Linked DNA regions of Homo sapiens. The protein of the gene in region 1 purifies or fractionates together with the protein of each later gene. This does not show direct contact. Each region holds a gene or a part of one and is shown in the gene's direction. Other genes may lie near its edges.

Region 1 (5,666 bases):
AGTGTCCCCCCGCCACCCGCCCCAACACATCAACTGTGTGTTCTCCCAGGGCAGGGCCCCTGCCTTTCTGTTCTTTGCCCACCACTCTCACTCCCCAGCAGCCACCGTGGGCCTGGTGCTGAGCAGTCAATCCTTGCTGAACTGAACTGCCCTTGGTGGGGATGTCACACGGGTCAGACTGCTTTGTCAGCGAGGACTCTGGGACAGGCCAACTTGTGTCTCTGATGCAAACCAAGGAAAAGAGCAAGAGGTGAAACTGATGTTCCTTCCCAGCCTTCCCAGTGCCCTGTGCCCCGTGCCAGGCACTTCCTCTGGTTCTATGTGTTCTCATTTTCCCGATGGTGAACCTGTCAGGCCTTGCGAGTTCCCCTCAGAGTTAGGGTTCTCATTCCCCCGAACTCGCCCAGACCCCCAAGCCTGAGCTCTTTCCCTAGGTTGGTGGGACCTTCAGGGAAGGAGGCTGAGGGTGCCCTTCGGAGACCAGTGGCCTGCCTGGGGGATGAAGTGGAGGCCCTCGGATCTGGCCTGGGCGTGCCAGGGCTCAGTGGCAGCCAGAGAGGGGCTGGGCTCCTCCCTGGGAGAGAGGGAAGAGGAGCAGCTGAGGACAGGAGGTGGGTATCTTCTCAGGAGGATGGATGGGAGGGGCCCCTTTGTCATGGTGGGCTGGTGGATGGGGCAGGAAGGGGATGTGGCCTGTGGCTGAATTCTGCTCTCTTTGAAAGCCAGGGAAGTGGCTCCCACAATAAGCCAAGATGAGAGAACTCTAGGGTCCCTGCCTGGGCCCTCCAGAGTTCTCTCCTCCAGCCTCTTGCCTCTGGGTTAGATTTCCCTCAAGACACCCTAAGCTGGGGCACAGTTTCCACTGTGAGCTAGAAGTTTCCGTTTTCTTGAATGTAAATGGGGGGCGATAGTAGTCACTTCCTTTCAGTTTTTGCTCAAATATGTCACCACAGAGAGCCCTCTCTGACCATCCTGTTCCCAACTGCCAGGACTCTGCCTCCCCTACCTTCTGGATCCTTTCGCTGCTTTGTTTTTGTGAACGGCACTTTTCACTTTCTAGGAGGCTGTGTAACTGATTTATTGATTTTTGTCTGCTTTTTCCCCCCAACCCGCAAATACTAGAGCCACAGGGCAGGAGGCTTTGCCTATTTTGTTCCTGTGTCCCCAGCACCTAAAGCAATGCCAGGCACTCAATACATATTTGTTGAATGAACACGTGAAGGATGCGTGTGAAGTGTTTCGCAGGATTCTTGGCATCTTAAGATTATTGCTGCTGCTGTTGTTTGCTGTGTGACTTGAGCACATTCCTTAGCCTCTCTGGCCCTCTGTCTCGCAGTCTGTAAAATGAAAAGAGTGAACCACTAAAGATCCATGAGCTTCTTTCAAACTCTAAAAATCTTGGTGCCTCTGAATGCTCAAGAAAGTTCTTCCCAAACCTCAACAGGAACTCCTTTTTCTTTTTTTTTTTTTTGCAGTTCTCAGCAGCAGCTCAGCTGGAACTTAGCCGGAGGTGCTAAGGACTCCTTTTGCAATAGCCCTTCCTTTACTTCTTTTGACTCTGAGGATCAGAATAGGGTATAGGTTTGGGATCACGAGTCAGCCCAATGTTTCTTGGAACAGTTTCCATTCAGATAGTTATGTTTTATTTCATTGACTTTGATGTGTTGCTTCTGGCACTTTATTGTTTTCAATAGAGGGCAATTCATGATGTGCATAATTAAAGGTCATTTGATTTTCATTTCTTTGTTAAGAGTTTCATAAAAACAAACAGAGTTCAGGAGAAAGCAATTGCCAGACCATGCGCCCAGAGACCATGTGCCCTGATTTGGGATTTGGACACCTGGTCCTTGGAGATGAAGGTTCCCACTGTCCTGCCATAGGTGGGGCTCTGCCCCTGGCCTGGAACGTCCCCTGTGGGGATAGGGTCATCCCTCAGAAGGCTCTGGAGCATCTGTTTCAGGGGCTCAGGTCAACAGGACCAAGACCATCCTCTCAAGGCTCTGCCCTTTCTCTCAGGGCCCCTCTGAAGAAGTAGCTCAGAACACTCCTCTGCTTCTGTGGGGGCAGTTTCATGAGTAAAGGCAGCTTCAGGTTCCCGGTATTTGGAATTTGGTATTCGCTGAGTAACTGGGATGGCCTCGATGAGGGGCAGAGGAACAGGTCTGGCTAGTTCTGTGTTGTTTATACTGGGGATTACTTCACACGTCCCAACCGGCTTCCCCGCCCCATTTGGTGGGGGCTGGCCCTTGGCCCTCCAACTCCTTTACCCTACATGCCTGAGAAGCCAGGGACCAAGATGGATCTTCTCCTCGACATCAGCTAAGCCTGGAGGACTCTTCCCCTCAGAGACCATGGAGAGGGACAGCCACGGGGTGAGTGTGACCTCAGGCCTCGGGCCAGATTCTCCCAGCGCTGAGGAAGCAGGGCTGAGGCTGGGAGACAGGTGGGACAGCTACCTCTGTGTTTCAGGTTTGGGGGAAACTGGCTGTGCCTCTTCTAGTTTGAAGCTACTTACGATCAAGATCTCTTGGTCTCCTTTTAACGTGGTTCTAGAAAAAGCCCCTGGGAGGAGAAGCTGCTGGGATTTGGGGTCTGGCTGGTGAGCACCCCAGGGCTATGTGGCTGAGTCGTGGGTTTCCTGCTCTGTGGTCTGTGAGCACTCCTGCCGGGCATCCATAGTGTTACAGCACCAACTTTGCCGATTGGGAATCCAGGCTAATCTACTTTAATCTCATTTTTGCTGGTTGGAAAATCAAAAGCATTCTAACTGCAATTCAGGGGCATCTTGTCTAAACCCCTCACTACACTCCTAAACCTTCCCAGAAAACTGTGACTTTCTGGGTGCATTCAAGATTTTCAAGGGGATGTTTCAACCTCCGTTGGTCACTTCTTTTTGGACTTAATAACTTTCATGCTTGGGAAGTGCTTCTTGATGTTTAACCACAAGTCCTGCTACCACTCAACTTCCTTTCTTCTGCTGCTCTTGGGGTAGGAGAAAGCAGCTGGCCTGTCCTCTGTGGGAAAGCCAGTCATACACACATGAAGGCTTCCAAAGATCTTGTTCTGCTGTGCCTCCACTTTCTTTTCCTCCAGGAAATCCCTTTTGTGCTCTCATTTCTCCTTTAGGTCTTGTTTTCTGCCCCCTCCAAATTCTCTGTACCTTACCGACATGGTAGAGCCTGGGACTCTGGGAAGAATGGGCTAGCACTGGGTTTGGGAAAGATCAGCTCATCCTATGTTTTGGCTTATAGTTGGCTTGTGGTCCATTCTGCACCCCCAATGTGTTTCTGCAAACTTTACCATCATTTTTTTCCCACCATTCTTCCAGCCCCCTCTTGACTTTTCTTTCCCAGGCTGCCTCCCTTGCCCTCTGCTCTGGGCTCCTTCGTTCATGTCTCTACCTCACCAAAGTCACTTGGCCCTAGGCCTTGGGGGGTTATCAGAGCCTCTTACTGTTGAGCAGTAAGGGGGGTACACAAGGGCATGCAGAAGGTGAACCCTTAGTCACAGCCATGGGGCATCCTCCTTGGCAATATGCTGGGAGCCTAAACTAGATGGTCCCTAAACCCAAGAGTGAGAAGGGCTGAGCTATCCGGAGGGTGGCCATGCTCCCACTGGAGATGGATAGTCCATCCCTGAGACAGGGTGATGGGGCGATATCTTCCCAGGAAGCTCATCTCTTCAGAGTCAGGGATCAACATGAAGGCTGCTGGAGGGATACAGGACAGAGAACAGACTTCTTTGAGGAACTCCCAATTAATCTATGAATTAAGTGTCAAATATTATGATAGGTGCCATATTCATTCTGAAAAAAAGATTGTCCAAACTTACCTTGGAATGGAAGAATGGAATCATTACATTCTTATTTAAGGTTCTTAACTTCACTCCCCTATTTAAGATGGAACTCTGAGAGAGTGAGCCTATAGTTGGGGCTCGTATTCCCATCTGCAGCAGGTTTCTTAACCTTGATTAAATAGGAGTGGTCTGGGAGAAGCTGGTCACCTGAGCTTGTGCCTTCTCCTTGAGGGCTTTATTGCAGAGAGATGCATTGTGATTTCTGTCCCTCAACTCCAAAATGTCGTGAGGAAGATGGTGGCCAGTGGGCTTGAGCCTGATGGCACTCCTCTGTCAGCTGCTGGATCTTCAGAGGGATCTTGGAAAAGAGGTGGAGAAGGGTCTCAGTTTCTCATATTCAAAAGAAAGTTGCATGTCGTGGTGGACAGAGAACTGACCATGTTCCCCGTCAGCTTTGGGCAAGCCACTTCACCTTTCTGTACCTTAGTTTCTTCATCTGTAAAATGGAATAATAATACTACTCTCAAAAGAAGAATGTTGGACAAACTAAATTTAACAGAGTTTAATTGAGCAAAGAACAATTCTCAAATGGAGCAGTCCCCCGAAGGAGAATAGATTCAGAGAGATTCCCACACAGCTGCGTGGTCGGAGAGGATTTATGGACAGAAAAAGGCAAGCAGTGTATGGAAAAAGGAAGTGAGGTACAGAAATAGCCTTATTTGAACACTGTTTGAACAGTTGGCTGCCTTTGATTGTGCAAAATTGGTGATTGTTAACAAGAGTAGTTTACAGTCTGTTTACACGTCCAGTTGAGTTATAGTTCATTATGTACAGAGAAACCTTTTGATCCGAACTTAAAATATGTAAGGAGGCAGCTTTAGGCTAAGCTTAATTTAATAATACCTACCTCAAGGAGTCTCAAAATAGTGTCCTTCCCATAGTAAGGCTCATTTAGAATAGCATCTGGCATAGAGAGATAGAGATAGATAGATAGAGATGGAGTCAGAGAATGTTGAAATTTATCATCACTGCCTAGAATTTGGGGTGGGCTCCTATAAATTTGGACAAACATCTTCTTCTACCTGTGCCTCAGCTTCCCCACCAAAGAAGAGGGTTGGACACATTCCCCCCTGAGGCTCCTTTCTGGCTCCCTGACAGTCTGGAATTACATAGAACGGGGATGACAGGTGCGCCACACCAGATTTGTTCTTGACAATGCGTATTTTGTGCTTTTTCAATTCTCATTTTTAATTCTCAGAGCAGTGCAATGCTTATTAAAGAAAGACTGAATTAGACCCATTGATGAAGCAACATTCCTTTGTGGAGTGGATTTTCTTATACTGGGCCTTCTTCAAGTGGAACAGGTTCCAAATTAGCCCAAGGCCACAGGTGCTAGGGATTGGTGAGAACCGTCTGGGGGCCCACCGCTGGTCCAGGATAAGGCACCCTTTCCAGAGGAGCTGGGCAGTTCCTGAGATGGCTCACCCGCGGGTCAAGTCACTCTGCCATGCCGTGTCCCAGCCCCATCCCAGCCCCAGGCACCCCAAGGACCCTGGCACCTGCCCTATGCCCCTGCAGGTGTGTAGCCCTCACCTCGTCCTCCAAGGACCCTGGCACCTGCCCTATGCCTCTGCAGGTGTGCATCCCTCACCTCGTCCTCCAAGGACCCTGGCACCTGCCCTATGCCCCTGCAGGTGTGTAGCCCTCACCTCGTCCTCCAAGGACCCTGGCACCTGCCCTATGCCTCTGCAGGTGTGCATCCCTCACCTCGTCCTCCAAGGACCCTGGCACCTGCCCTATGCCCCTGCAGGTGTGCAGCCTTCACCTCGTCCTCCAAGGACCCTGGTACCTGCCCTGTGCCCCTGCAGGTG
Region 2 (3,500 bases), on another chromosome or scaffold:
GCAAATATTACACTTCTCTCCTTGTAAGTGAATATCAGCAGAATTCCTCATGTATGTTTGCAGGAACCTTGAGTGGGAGTTCCATAGGGACTAGCATAGAGATCTTAGAAGAAAAAAATGGAATATTTTTTTCAGGGCATAGTAAAGATACGCGCTTTAAATTGGTTAACTTGTTTTCTAGCCTCTAACTCTCTCACTGCTAAATTTCATGTATTCTTATAACAACACACTTTACACTTTGCTGTTGTTGCCGAACTGGTCTTCGAGATTCAAAGAGGCCAGCTTTACACCATAGAAATGTGTATTTTATCGTATTCTGTAGACTAGGACTTTAATTTTAGTATCGCTCAATGGTTGGCATGGGGATCTGTGGGTTATGTATTACGTAGTTCCTAGTGGAGAATGATCAGAGTTGCTTTGTGAGGAGAAACCGGAGTTGAGAATAAGCCATTGGAGTATCCTGTTTTAAGTGTGGTACCTGCAGTGTAAATCAGAGTTCAGAGACATCAACTCAAAAAAAGTAAATATGTGACTGAAGACAGAAATAACTTTGCAGGTTGTTTTGCAAATATGAGTTTTCAAATACAATTAAGGTTGTACCAAGTTTTCTGTATTTTTAGTGTAGGTAACGTTGTATATACATGCACTGACGTAGGTTTTGGAATAATTCTGACTTTCAGCATTTAAAGGTAGCATTTAGAATGCCTGTGGTTTAATTTCTAAAATCTAATTAGCTTACCACCTTAATCTTAAATAATTTAAAAATATATTTAAGCTACTGATGTTAAAAAATGTTTTTCTTTAAGCAACTTAAGGAAAAAACCACCATTGTTAGTTGCTTCTGAGAGAGGTGTTGGGAGGGTTGAAATTATACAGTAAATTTCAGGAAAGCTGTTCAATTAATAGAGTGATCACTACCCAATTGCTTACATCTGGTGATTTATAGAGGTTTGTTTTTACTGAGGGCCCAGGTCAGCTAAGTCACGGGTGCAGCCGCTGTGTCTGCTTTCCTCTGTTTGAATAAGAGCTAAGTGACATTTGATACTGATGTGGTTTTTCCAAAGATCAGAAACAGAAAGGAGTGAAAGAAAAAGCAGTCGGTATTTGACAAATAAACACTGTATTTAAAAAACATTTTTATGCTAGCATAAATACCTTTTTTCTTTGTCTTTTACAATTGCTTAAAATTTTAGAATCTAAATGGAGTGCTGGTTTTGGTATCGTAAACATCTGCAGCTATTCTTGTTTGACCAAGGTGGCCTTTTTAAATTCCACTTTGCTCTTGCTGTCCTCGCACTGCATATTGGCAGATTCTGTCAGTATGTTTAAGAGAGCTTGAGGGTCATGGCATACTTCATGGCTGAGAGGATCTGCAGTGCAGTTTTGTAATCTGGGCAGCATGGGGAAAGCAGTCTACTCTTTGGCATGGTATAGCGTTGAGAGCATTAAGAACTTGTGAGGAAGTTAGAAAATTATAAGTAACCTAGTGTTTTATACTTTTTTTTTTTTGAGACAGAGTCTTGCTCTGTTGCCCAGGCTGGAGTGCAGTGGCACGATCTTGGCTCACTGTAAGCTCCGCCTCCTGGGTTCACACCATTCTCCTGCCTCAGCCTCCCAAGTAGCTGGGACTACAGGCGTCCGCCACTACGCCCGGCTAGTTTTTTGTATTTTTAGTAGAGAGGGGGTTTCACCGTGTTAGCCAGGATGGTCTCGATCTCCTGACCTCGTAATCCTCCCGCCTCGGCCTCCCAAAGTGTTGGGATTGCAGGTGTGAGCCACTGCGCCCAGCCCCTAGTGTTTTACACTTTAACGTTATAACTTATAATTAGAAAGCTACAATGATCTCTCAAAAGTTAGAAATTTGTGCTCCTTTAAAATTTGTCCTCTTCTCCATATTGTTTTTGTGTTTCACTTTAGCAAGTGCTGGGTGTGAAATCACCCTGAATAATTTCACTTTCTTTCTCCTTAATGTGTTACAATACCTCTGGCCAGTGATTGCTTTGTTCGTCTCACATAATGATACATCCAATGTGTTACCTAGATTACATAGACTCTGCGAAGAGTAATTTATATCATGGGCCTGATAATTCAATGTGGAGAGTAAAAACTTCTTTTTATACCTATGAAATATCTTGAAAAATTTACCTCTCTGGTTGTTTTCATCTACGAATGTTTTGTTTCCTCCTGCAGGCTTGATTGGATATTGTAATATACAATTATTGTTTCTCAAGCACTTTTAATTTGTGTTGTGTAGAGTAAAACATTTTCTTTTATATAAAAACACTTGAAAATAAAGCTAAAAATGAGTTCTTAAATGCTTTTCTGAGATTAAAAAAAATCTGTTAAGTTATATAACATGACACAGATTGAAAACTTGCTGTAGCGTCACAATTAAATCTCATATCTTTCAAAGTAGTTTTTAGAATGATTTGACTTTCATATTAAGAGTTTTTTGTGGTTGTTTTTTGTTTGTATCTTTTACATTTTGCAGAGGAAAACATTTTTATGAGTTATTTGCACAGGTTAAATAGTTTGAAAGCTTGTGTGTAAAGAAAATGAGTAATTAGTTGAAGTCTTAACCATAGGATTTAATATTACTGCTCCATACTCTTTCTACTCTGTGCCATGAAGACCCCTCCCAGCTGGAGGGGCTGCATGCAGAGAAGACTGTCCTGGTGAGACTTTTGTCTTCTCTTAGCTATAGGAGCCAGGAGCTGATAATTAGATCAAAGGGTACCGCATGTCCAGAGACAAATTCAGTTAGGGACCTATTCTCATAATATCAGGGAATCTGGGATGATAGGAATCTGCGATAATCTTCCCACTAACAAAGCTCATCTCTAACCTTTTTAGCATGCACAAGGCCTGAATAGACATGCTTTCCTTTGAATCCCACACAGAACTAGCTCAGAAGTCAACCAGTGTGCTAGGTGCAAGGCATGATTTGTATGTTTTTTAAATTTTTCTCTCACAATATCCTAGCTATTGCAGGATGACATATTTTAAAGAAGTGGAATAGTCTTTGGAATGAACATATCTTACAGTAAAACTCTATTGACCTGGCTTACATGAGGGAGTTGATTTTTCTGAATGTATGAACTCTGGCTTTGCGTGGTGTGGAATGACCTGCTCGAGCATTGGACATGATTGAAATCTGTGCCTTGGGTTAGGGAAGTTTGAATCTGTGAGTTCTACAGCATTGTAGTTGAACAAAAGAGCCTTGTTGGTTATTAAACGGAGCTAGTTGGGTCTTAGTCTTGATGCTAATGGTTTATATAGTGTTACCCAGCATGCAGATGCTTGCCTGGTGTCCTAGAGTTGAAGAATGTTAGGTCAGTGACTGTCAAAGAGGCACCTAGGGTACTTGTTTTTTTTGTTTTTGTTTTTGTTTTTTTTTGAGACGGAGTCTCGCAGTGTCACCCAGGCTGGAGTGCAGTGGCTCAATCTCAGCTCACTGCAAGCTCCGCTGCCCGGGTTCATGCCGTTCTCTTGCCTCAGCC

Evidence for each region. The genes of interacting proteins can lie anywhere in the genome.
Region 2: the proteins of TMPRSS13 (region 1) and LRIG3 purify together in Homo sapiens (affinity purification with mass spectrometry; one large-scale study listed by BioGRID and IntAct). This does not show direct contact.

The regions. Positions count from the first base shown.
Region 1 is NC_000011.10:117,925,993-117,931,658, reverse strand, and holds the start of TMPRSS13 (transmembrane protease serine 13), read left to right. Parts: upstream 1-2,256; 5' UTR 2,257-2,351; coding exon 2,352-2,372; intron 2,373-5,666. UniProt on the Homo sapiens protein: Serine protease. Cleaves the proform of PRSS8/prostasin to form the active protein. Cleaves the proform of HGF to form the active protein which promotes MAPK signaling.
Region 2 is NC_000012.12:58,910,505-58,914,004, reverse strand, and holds part of LRIG3 (leucine-rich repeats and immunoglobulin-like domains protein 3 isoform 2 precursor), read left to right. Parts: coding exon 1-23; intron 24-3,500. UniProt on the Homo sapiens protein: May play a role in craniofacial and inner ear morphogenesis during embryonic development. May act within the otic vesicle epithelium to control formation of the lateral semicircular canal in the inner ear, possibly by restricting the expression of NTN1.